Linked DNA regions of Homo sapiens. The protein of the gene in region 2 interacts with the protein of the main gene of each other region in a pairwise test. Each region holds a gene or a part of one and is shown on either strand. Other genes may lie near its edges. The genes, in order: HSD17B14 and PGLYRP3.

Region 1 (3,818 bases), on a different chromosome or scaffold from region 2:
AATCAGCTGGGCGTAGTGGTGGGCACCTGTAGTCTCAGGTCCTCGGGAGGCTGAGGCAGGAGAATTTATTGAGCCCAGGTAGTCAAGGTTGTGGTGAGCCGAGATCCTGCCACTGCACTCCAGCCTGGGTGATGGAGCAAGATTGTCTCAAAAAAAAAAAAAAAAAAAGTAAAAGAAAAGAAGAAAATATATATATATATACACACACACACACACACACACACACACACACATATATTAACTCTTCATGGGCTGAGGTGTAGGTGTGTTTTATGTGTGGAGGTGTTTTTAGTGTTGGGTTAATCCTAGAAAGTCAACACAAATTTGGAACAGGAGCCAGGGTTCACTGGTTAAGCAGGGGATTGCCCAACCTCCCGGGAACATTTCACCTGGATCTTGGATGCGACCTCAGAGTCAGCACCTGAAGCTCCCTGGACACTGGGCCCGCCCCCAGGCCTCTCCCCTCTTTGCCTACTCTTGCTCCCCTGAGTTCCTCCAGCCTCAAACTGGTCAGCTGCAAGCTGGTATCTCCAGAGCCCCACCTCCACGATCTCATGCCCAATGCCCATTCCCACCAGGACGTCCACCAGGCAGTTCATGTTCAACAGCGCCCCCGCCAGGCTTTCCTGCCACAGTGAATGGCAGCTCTGTCCGGTCAGTTGCTCAGTTGCTGGAGGTGGGGAGAACAAACCTAAAACCCCACTTTTTTTTTTTTTTTGAGATGGAGTCTCGCTCTGTCGCCCAGGCTGGAGTGCAGTGGTGTGATCTCAGCTCACCTCAACCTCTGCCTCCTGGGTTCATGAGATTGTCCTGCCTCAGCCTCATAAGAAGCTGGGATTACAGGCGCCCACCACCACGCCTGGCTAATTTTTGTATTTTTAGTAGAGACGGAGTTTCACCATGTTGGCCAGGCTGGTCTCGAACTCCTGACCTCATGATCTGCCCGCCTTAGCCTCCCAAAGTGCTGGGATTACAAAGACATGAGCCACCGTGCCTGGCAAGGACAGGGATTTTCTTCTGTTGTGTGTTCATAGCTGTATGCGCAGGGCTCCGCATGTTGCTGGTGCTATATAACTATTTGTTGAGTTAATTAATTAAAAAGTGCTATGCGGAGAATAAAGATGTTATGGAGAGTGGATGTTTGTGTGCAGCTGTTGCATAAGCAAGGGTGAGGGAAAGGCTTTGATGTGTGTTCTTCTCCTTCGTTTTTTTTTAGATAGAGTCTTGCTCTGTTGCCCAGGCTGGAGTGCAGTGGTGCAATCTCAGCTCACTGCAACCTCCATCTCCCAGGTTCCAGCAATTCTCCTGCCTCAGCCTCACGAGGAATTGGGATTACAGGTGCTCACCACCATGCCCAGCTAATTTTTTGTGTATTTTTAGTAGAGACGGGGTCTCACCATATTGGACAGGCTGGTCTTGAACTCCTGATGAGTGATCCACCCGCCTTGGCATCCCAAAGTGCTGGGATTACAGGTGTGAGCCACCGTGACCAACCCTTCTCCTTCCTTTTTTTTTTCTTTTTTTTTTTTTGAGACGGAGTCTCGCTCTATTGCCCAGGCTGGAGTGCAGTGATGCAATCTCGGCTCACTGCAACCTCCGCCTCCCGGGTTCACGCCATTCTCCTGCCTCAGCCTCCCAAGTAGCTGGGACTACAGGAGCCCGCCACCGCGCCCAGCTAATTTTTTGTATTTTTAGTAGAGACGGGGTTTCACCGCGTTAGCCAAGATGGTCTCGATCTCCTGACCTCGTGATCCGCCGGCCTCGGCCTCCCAAAGTGCTGGGATTACAGGCATGAGGTGCCGCGCCCGGCCAAAGGCTCAACTTTTTAAAGAAAAAAGGACGAATCAAGAGAGGCGGTGATTACAAAAGTTGTTCATCAGGAATTGTCATTGGTTTACAGACATCACATTGATTAGTGATTGGCTATACATGTTTGAACTATAGAGTGTGTGACACTCTAGAGCTACTTGGTATCAGGTCGTCTAGAGTCCAGAAACCAAGTAGCCTCAAAAGGTAATTATTGGATGGGTGCAGTAGCTCATGCCTGTAATCCCAGCTTGAGGCAAGGAGTTCGAGACCAGCCTGAGCAGCATAGAAAGACCCTGTCTCTACAAAAAAGTTAAAAATTAGTCAGTCATAGTGGTGCACCCCTGTGGTCCCAGCTGCTCAGGAGGCTGATACAAGAGGATCACTTGAGCCCAGGGGTTCGAGGCTGCTGTGAGCTATGATGGTACTCCAGCCTGGGCAACAGAGTGAGTCCCTGTCTCAAAAAGTAATTAAAATACATTTTTATAAAGTCCCTCTGAGCCAGGTGCGGTGGCTCACACCTGTAATCCCAGGAGTTTGAAAGGCTGAGGCAGGAGAATCACTTGAGCCCAAGAGTTTGAGACCAGCCTGGACAACATAGTGAAACCCCACCTCTATTAAAAAATAAAAAGGCCAGGCACAGTGGCTCATGCCTGTAATCCCAGCACTTTGGGAGGCTGAGGTGGGTGGATCACGGGGTCAGGAGTTCAAGACCAGCCTGGCCAACATGGTGAAACCTCGTCTCTACTAAAAATACAAAAAAATTAGCCAGGCGTGGTGGTGAGTGCCTATAATCCCAGCCACTAGGGAGGCTGAGGCAGAGAATTGCTTAAACCTGGGAGGCAGAGGTTGCAGTGAGCCGAGATTGTGCCACTGTACTCCAGCCTGGGTGACAGAGTAAGACTCTGTCTCAAAAAATAAATTAATTAATTTTTAAAAAAGTTGTTAAAAAGCCCCTCTGGGCCTGATCCTGATCATCTAAAGGGGCTCTCCTTTCTCAGATAAAAAAGTTTGTTTTCTTTCTCATTCCCTCCCCAGCTCTCCCCCAATTCTTGTTTAAGACAAGGACTCGCTCTGTTGCCCAGGCTGGAGTGCAGTGGCACAATCACGGCTCACTGCAGCCTCCAGCTCCCAGGTTGAAGTGATCCTCTCACCTCAGCCTCCCGTGTAGCTGGGATTACAGGAGCACCACCATACTCAGCTAATTTTTTTTTTTTTTCTGAGAAAGAGTTTCACTCTGTCACCCAGGCTGGAGTGTAGTGGCACAATCTCAGCTCACTGCAACCTCCACCTCCCAGGTTCAAGCAATTCTACCGCCTCAGCCTCTTGAGTAGCTGGGATTACAGGCACCTGCCACCACGCACAGCTAATTTTTGTATTTTTAGTAGAGATGGGGTTTCACCATGTTGGACTCCTGACCTCAAGTGATCTGTCCGCCTTGGCCTCCCAAAGTGCCAGGATTACAGGCATGAGCTACCAGGCCTGGCTTTTTTTTTTTTTTTTTTTTTTGTGAGACGGAGTTTCCGCTCTTATTGCCCAGGCTGGAGTGCAATGGCACGATCTCAGCTCACTGCAACCTCTGCCTCCCAGGTTCAAGTGATTCTCCTGCCTCAGCCTCCTGAGTAGCTGGGATTATAGGCATGTGCCACCACACCCGGCTAATTTTGTATTTTTAATAGAGATGGGGTTTCTCCATGTTGGTCAGGCTGGTCTCAAACTCCCGACCTCAGGTGATCCGCCTGCCTCGGCCTCCCAAAGTGCTGGGATTACAGGCGTAAGCCACCATGCCTGGACTCCATGCTCTTTTTAAAAATTAATTAATGAATTATTTTTTTTTTGAGACAAGGTCTCACTCTGTCACCTAGGCTGGAGTGCAGTTGCACGATCTCAGCTCACTGCAACCTCCGCCTCCTGGGCTCAAGCTGTGATACCCTAACCTTGTTTTAACCTGAATTGACTCTCCCTTAGGTGAGCGAGCCAGACAGACTCCATCCTGGCTCCTTCACTTGCAG
Region 2 (3,818 bases):
CCTCTCCCAGGCCTCCAGCACCCACGGGCACATCCTAATGTAATATCAGCTTTGGGATTCTGGGGAAGTCCAGTTGGGAGGTTTCTGATTCAGATGGCTGGAGCCAAGGGGCTGAGGCAAAAATCTACAGGCCTGATACCAATAGAAATCAGCGTATAAGCAGAAGGGAAAGGGCTGTGGGTTATACAGAGGCATGGTCATTGTCTTCAAAAGACCATGCATTGCAAATATATATGCAGGTATGTGCGCTTATGTAACAGGGCTACTACGCGGAAGTCAGTGGACTCTCCGAACTGATCACACATATTTGGAAACAACTTGAAATCTAGAGAGAACTGTACAAATATTAAGAAATTATCATTATTGAAGATAGTGCCTGTCCAAAAGCAAGAAACATTTTATTTGAGATTTACAGTTTTAAAAAGCTAATTCTAAAAATATCATTGATCCCAAGAAAAGGTCCACTAGCAGGAGTGCTTATTAATTTGACTGGTTTTAGGTTGCTGCTTATTCACTTCAAAATAGTGCATTATTTTTATTACTCAGCTTTTTGTTATATGCACTCTGATGTCAGCATCATCTGTGAGCACAAGCTTTTCTCCGAGCTGTGGCTGTGCTGTGGCCATGGCTGGTTTTTGCATTTAGAAAGGTATGTAAGCTTATGTATGTCCTTCGTGTCCCCACATAATAGACACAACTATGTATACATGTTAATCCCACTCCATTCCCACTCTATTTTTCTCCATAGCTTTTATGCCGTCTAACATCATATACATTTCTTTGTTATTTTGTTCATTTTCTGTCTCTTCTCACTGAAGTGCAAGCTTCCTGAAGGTGAAGAGTTTCATCTGTTTTGTTCACAGCTGTATGCTCAGTACTTAGAACAGTGCCTGCTATGCAGTAAATATTTGTTGACTGACTGAAAATCTGTGTACATATGTATTTGTTTTAAGAAGAAGTCTATGGCTATCTCATTCTGATGGGATGGAGAGGAGGCCAGGAAGATGCCCTCTCAGAATTTTCCAGATCTCAAAGTAGGCATGAGATGTTCTTAGTCCCAGAATCCCATGGGGTCTAACAGGAAAAAGCACTCCCAAACATGACTCCAAACATGGCTAGGTGGTGACGAGGAGGAGGGTGAGGTGACATGGAGGGTCTTACCCTTCCTGGGCATCACTGGATGTTGAGGGTCCAGGCAGGTCTCTTCTTTCAGAAGAAGTGGCTGAATATACCTGGGCGACAGGTGACCCTTCTGGATGGCATAGGAGATCAGACCCTCTGCAGCTGATAAGGCAGCAGGGCTGGGACTGCTGCCTTAAAGAGGAGGACAGGGAGCACAAAAATGTCAGTAAGAAACTCCACCTAGACCAGACACCTGCAGAAAGGATGATATGACCACTTGAGCCTGAATAACTGGATTGGAAGAGAGGAAACTGGTCCAGTTGCCAGAACAGAGTGCCTAAGAGGCGAGAAGCTACCTAGATCTCTTAGCAGCCAAGGTTGAAAACTTCTTCCAAGAGCCAAGCTAAGACTTTATCCACTCCATCTCTAGGCAGAAGAGCTGGAAGGCAGTGAAGGATACATGCAAAGGGAGGCCCACCTGACCAAGTCAGGTGTGCACTAGCACAGGAGAAAAGGCAACCAGAATTTACTCATAGCTCCCCTGATCAGGTGTGCAGTAGGCTTTTTATATCTGTTAACTCATAACTCTCACAGAAAACCTCTGAGAGAAATGCTGTTACCTAGCCCCAGCTGTCAAATGAGGATGCTGGCAGGTGCTGGTTCCATATGTATTATTTCTCAGCTCCATCCCTGTTCTGTGCTTTTCTCTATTTTTCTAGGGGCTAGAAGCCTGCAAATTATACCTCCAGATTTCCTTGCCTGCTGCCTTCTGGTCACTTTCTACCAGTGGAACTGGAATAAGAGATGAGCCATGCTTCTCTGCCTCTGGCAGTCACAGCATCTATGTCAGACAACCTCAGACTTTAGAAGTGACAGCAATAACCGTGAGCTCAAGCAACGCCCATGCAAGCTTCAGCAATATCACAGGAGTACAGACCAGTAAAGAGAGGCAGAGGACAAAAAGTATGCATGTCACAGGATCCAAAGGAGAAAAGAATTTCAAGAGAAGGGTGATCATCAGAGAAGGTAAGTATGATGTAGGGTAAAAAGATGAGTGTTGACCCTTGGGAGTGGAGGAAGAGAGTGTACACAACTCTCCAGCACAGGGTCCGCAGGGAGTGACCCTTACCTATCTTATTGCCAAAGAAGGCGATGCCCAGGGAAATGTTGTTGTAGCCCTGGGTGTGCAAGCCTTGGATGTTCCAGCCAACACCTTCATACACCCTGCCATCATCCCCAACCAGGAAGCTGACAAGAAGGAAATAATGATTTTACTGCAAATCTCCATAAATGAAAACCTCTCACTGATCCTCAAAAGGAAAAGGGGTTCTGGAGGCTCATAAGTAAGTACTATGTTCCAATAACAAAACAATAGGAGGTGCAGAATAACCAGTTTTAGACCTCCAAGAGACATGGGAATATATTTTAATTTTTGTTGGGATTTAGCTTGCATGTGTTTTCCAGAACCTCACTTCAAAAATACTCATTTGGTTCAAAGTGGAATTTGACTGCATGACACTCAAGGACCTGAGGACATTAGTTCAATGCTTTTCAAGAGCTTAAAAATTACTACATCATGTTTTTAAATTATAGGACCAAACACTTGAACATTCTCTAAAATAATTATGCCAGATTCAATAGTTCCTTTTGTATTGATGTTTTTCTTCAGATTCTCTTTAGGAATTTCCTTAAGCTCTTCTTTATCATAGAAATTTGTTTAGAATGTTCCTTTTTCACATTTACTTTTTAAATCAATTTTTTATTCTACTTCTTTTATTCCTGCCTCTTTATAATTTCTCTCCTCCACTTTCCAATCAGTCTTCAGAATTGATGTTTTCACAACTTTGCCGTATTCATCTTTTAATAGAACATGAGTTTCCGCAGCAAACTGAACACAGAAAGAACACCTCCCTTAGGTCAAGGAAAGACACTGAACTGAGTCAGGCCGACTTTCCACCCTACACCGATGTCGACATGAGGAATGGGTGTGGAGCCTGGTGTGTCCACCCCTTCCCTGGCTTTGCTGCCAGTACTTTCACAGGTTCCTTGGTCACTCCTGCAGCAGCCTGTGGTTAGTACGGTGTGAACAGTCCCTTACAGCTACTGTCAGCTGCATTGCAAAAACTGGAGATTGTCAAGTTGTCACTGTAGAAACCTGACTTAGAGATGCAGAGGCTGAAATAACTTAGGAATACAGTGACCAAACCAGAAAACACAGCAGCGACAACAGCAGGATGGTGGAGGTGCTGGTGGCAGGGGCAGCAGGTGAGTCGTGGTTGACATGACATGCCCCATGGGCAGACAGGGAAGACCCAGCCATCCCAGGGGTGCTGGGGGCCAAAACCAGGGCCTGCAGCTGCTCTTATTTATTTGTGTTTAAAAATAAATAAATAAATAAATAAGACTTAGATTTTCCTTTCCAAAATGGATAATTCAGAAATTATTTATGTTTGTCTTTAGAGTTCCATGCGGGACAGCCCCATTCCCACTCTCTCTTTCCCTCTCCTTCTACATGTGTCTCCTCATTCTTGAGGCTAAGGGAGAAAAGGTTCTGGGCTTCCACTGATGATCCCCAGAGCAGAAACTCAATGCACAGTGCACAGCTCCTTCATGCCCTCCCTTGTTTCTTGCGGGTCTCTCCTCCCCGCCATTCCCAAAGCCCACTCTCCCCGGTGGGGTCCCCGGACTTGCTGTCA

Evidence for each region.
Region 1: the proteins of PGLYRP3 (region 2) and HSD17B14 interact in binary tests that used the Homo sapiens proteins (3 or more experiments, as listed by UniProt).

What each region holds. Positions count from the first base shown.
Region 1 is NC_000019.10:48,826,343-48,830,160, forward strand, and holds part of HSD17B14 (L-fucose dehydrogenase), read right to left. Parts: intron 1-3,818. UniProt on the Homo sapiens protein: Catalyzes the NAD(+)-dependent oxidation of L-fucose, yielding L-fucono-1,5-lactone, which rapidly converts spontaneously to L-fucone-1,4-lactone. Can also act on D-arabinose and L-galactose, with lower catalytic efficiency. Does not use NADPH.
Region 2 is NC_000001.11:153,302,696-153,306,513, forward strand, and holds part of PGLYRP3 (peptidoglycan recognition protein 3 precursor), read right to left. Parts: intron 2,371-3,818; coding exon 2,252-2,370; intron 1,315-2,251; coding exon 1,162-1,314; intron 1-1,161. UniProt on the Homo sapiens protein: Pattern receptor that binds to murein peptidoglycans (PGN) of Gram-positive bacteria. Has bactericidal activity towards Gram-positive bacteria. May kill Gram-positive bacteria by interfering with peptidoglycan biosynthesis.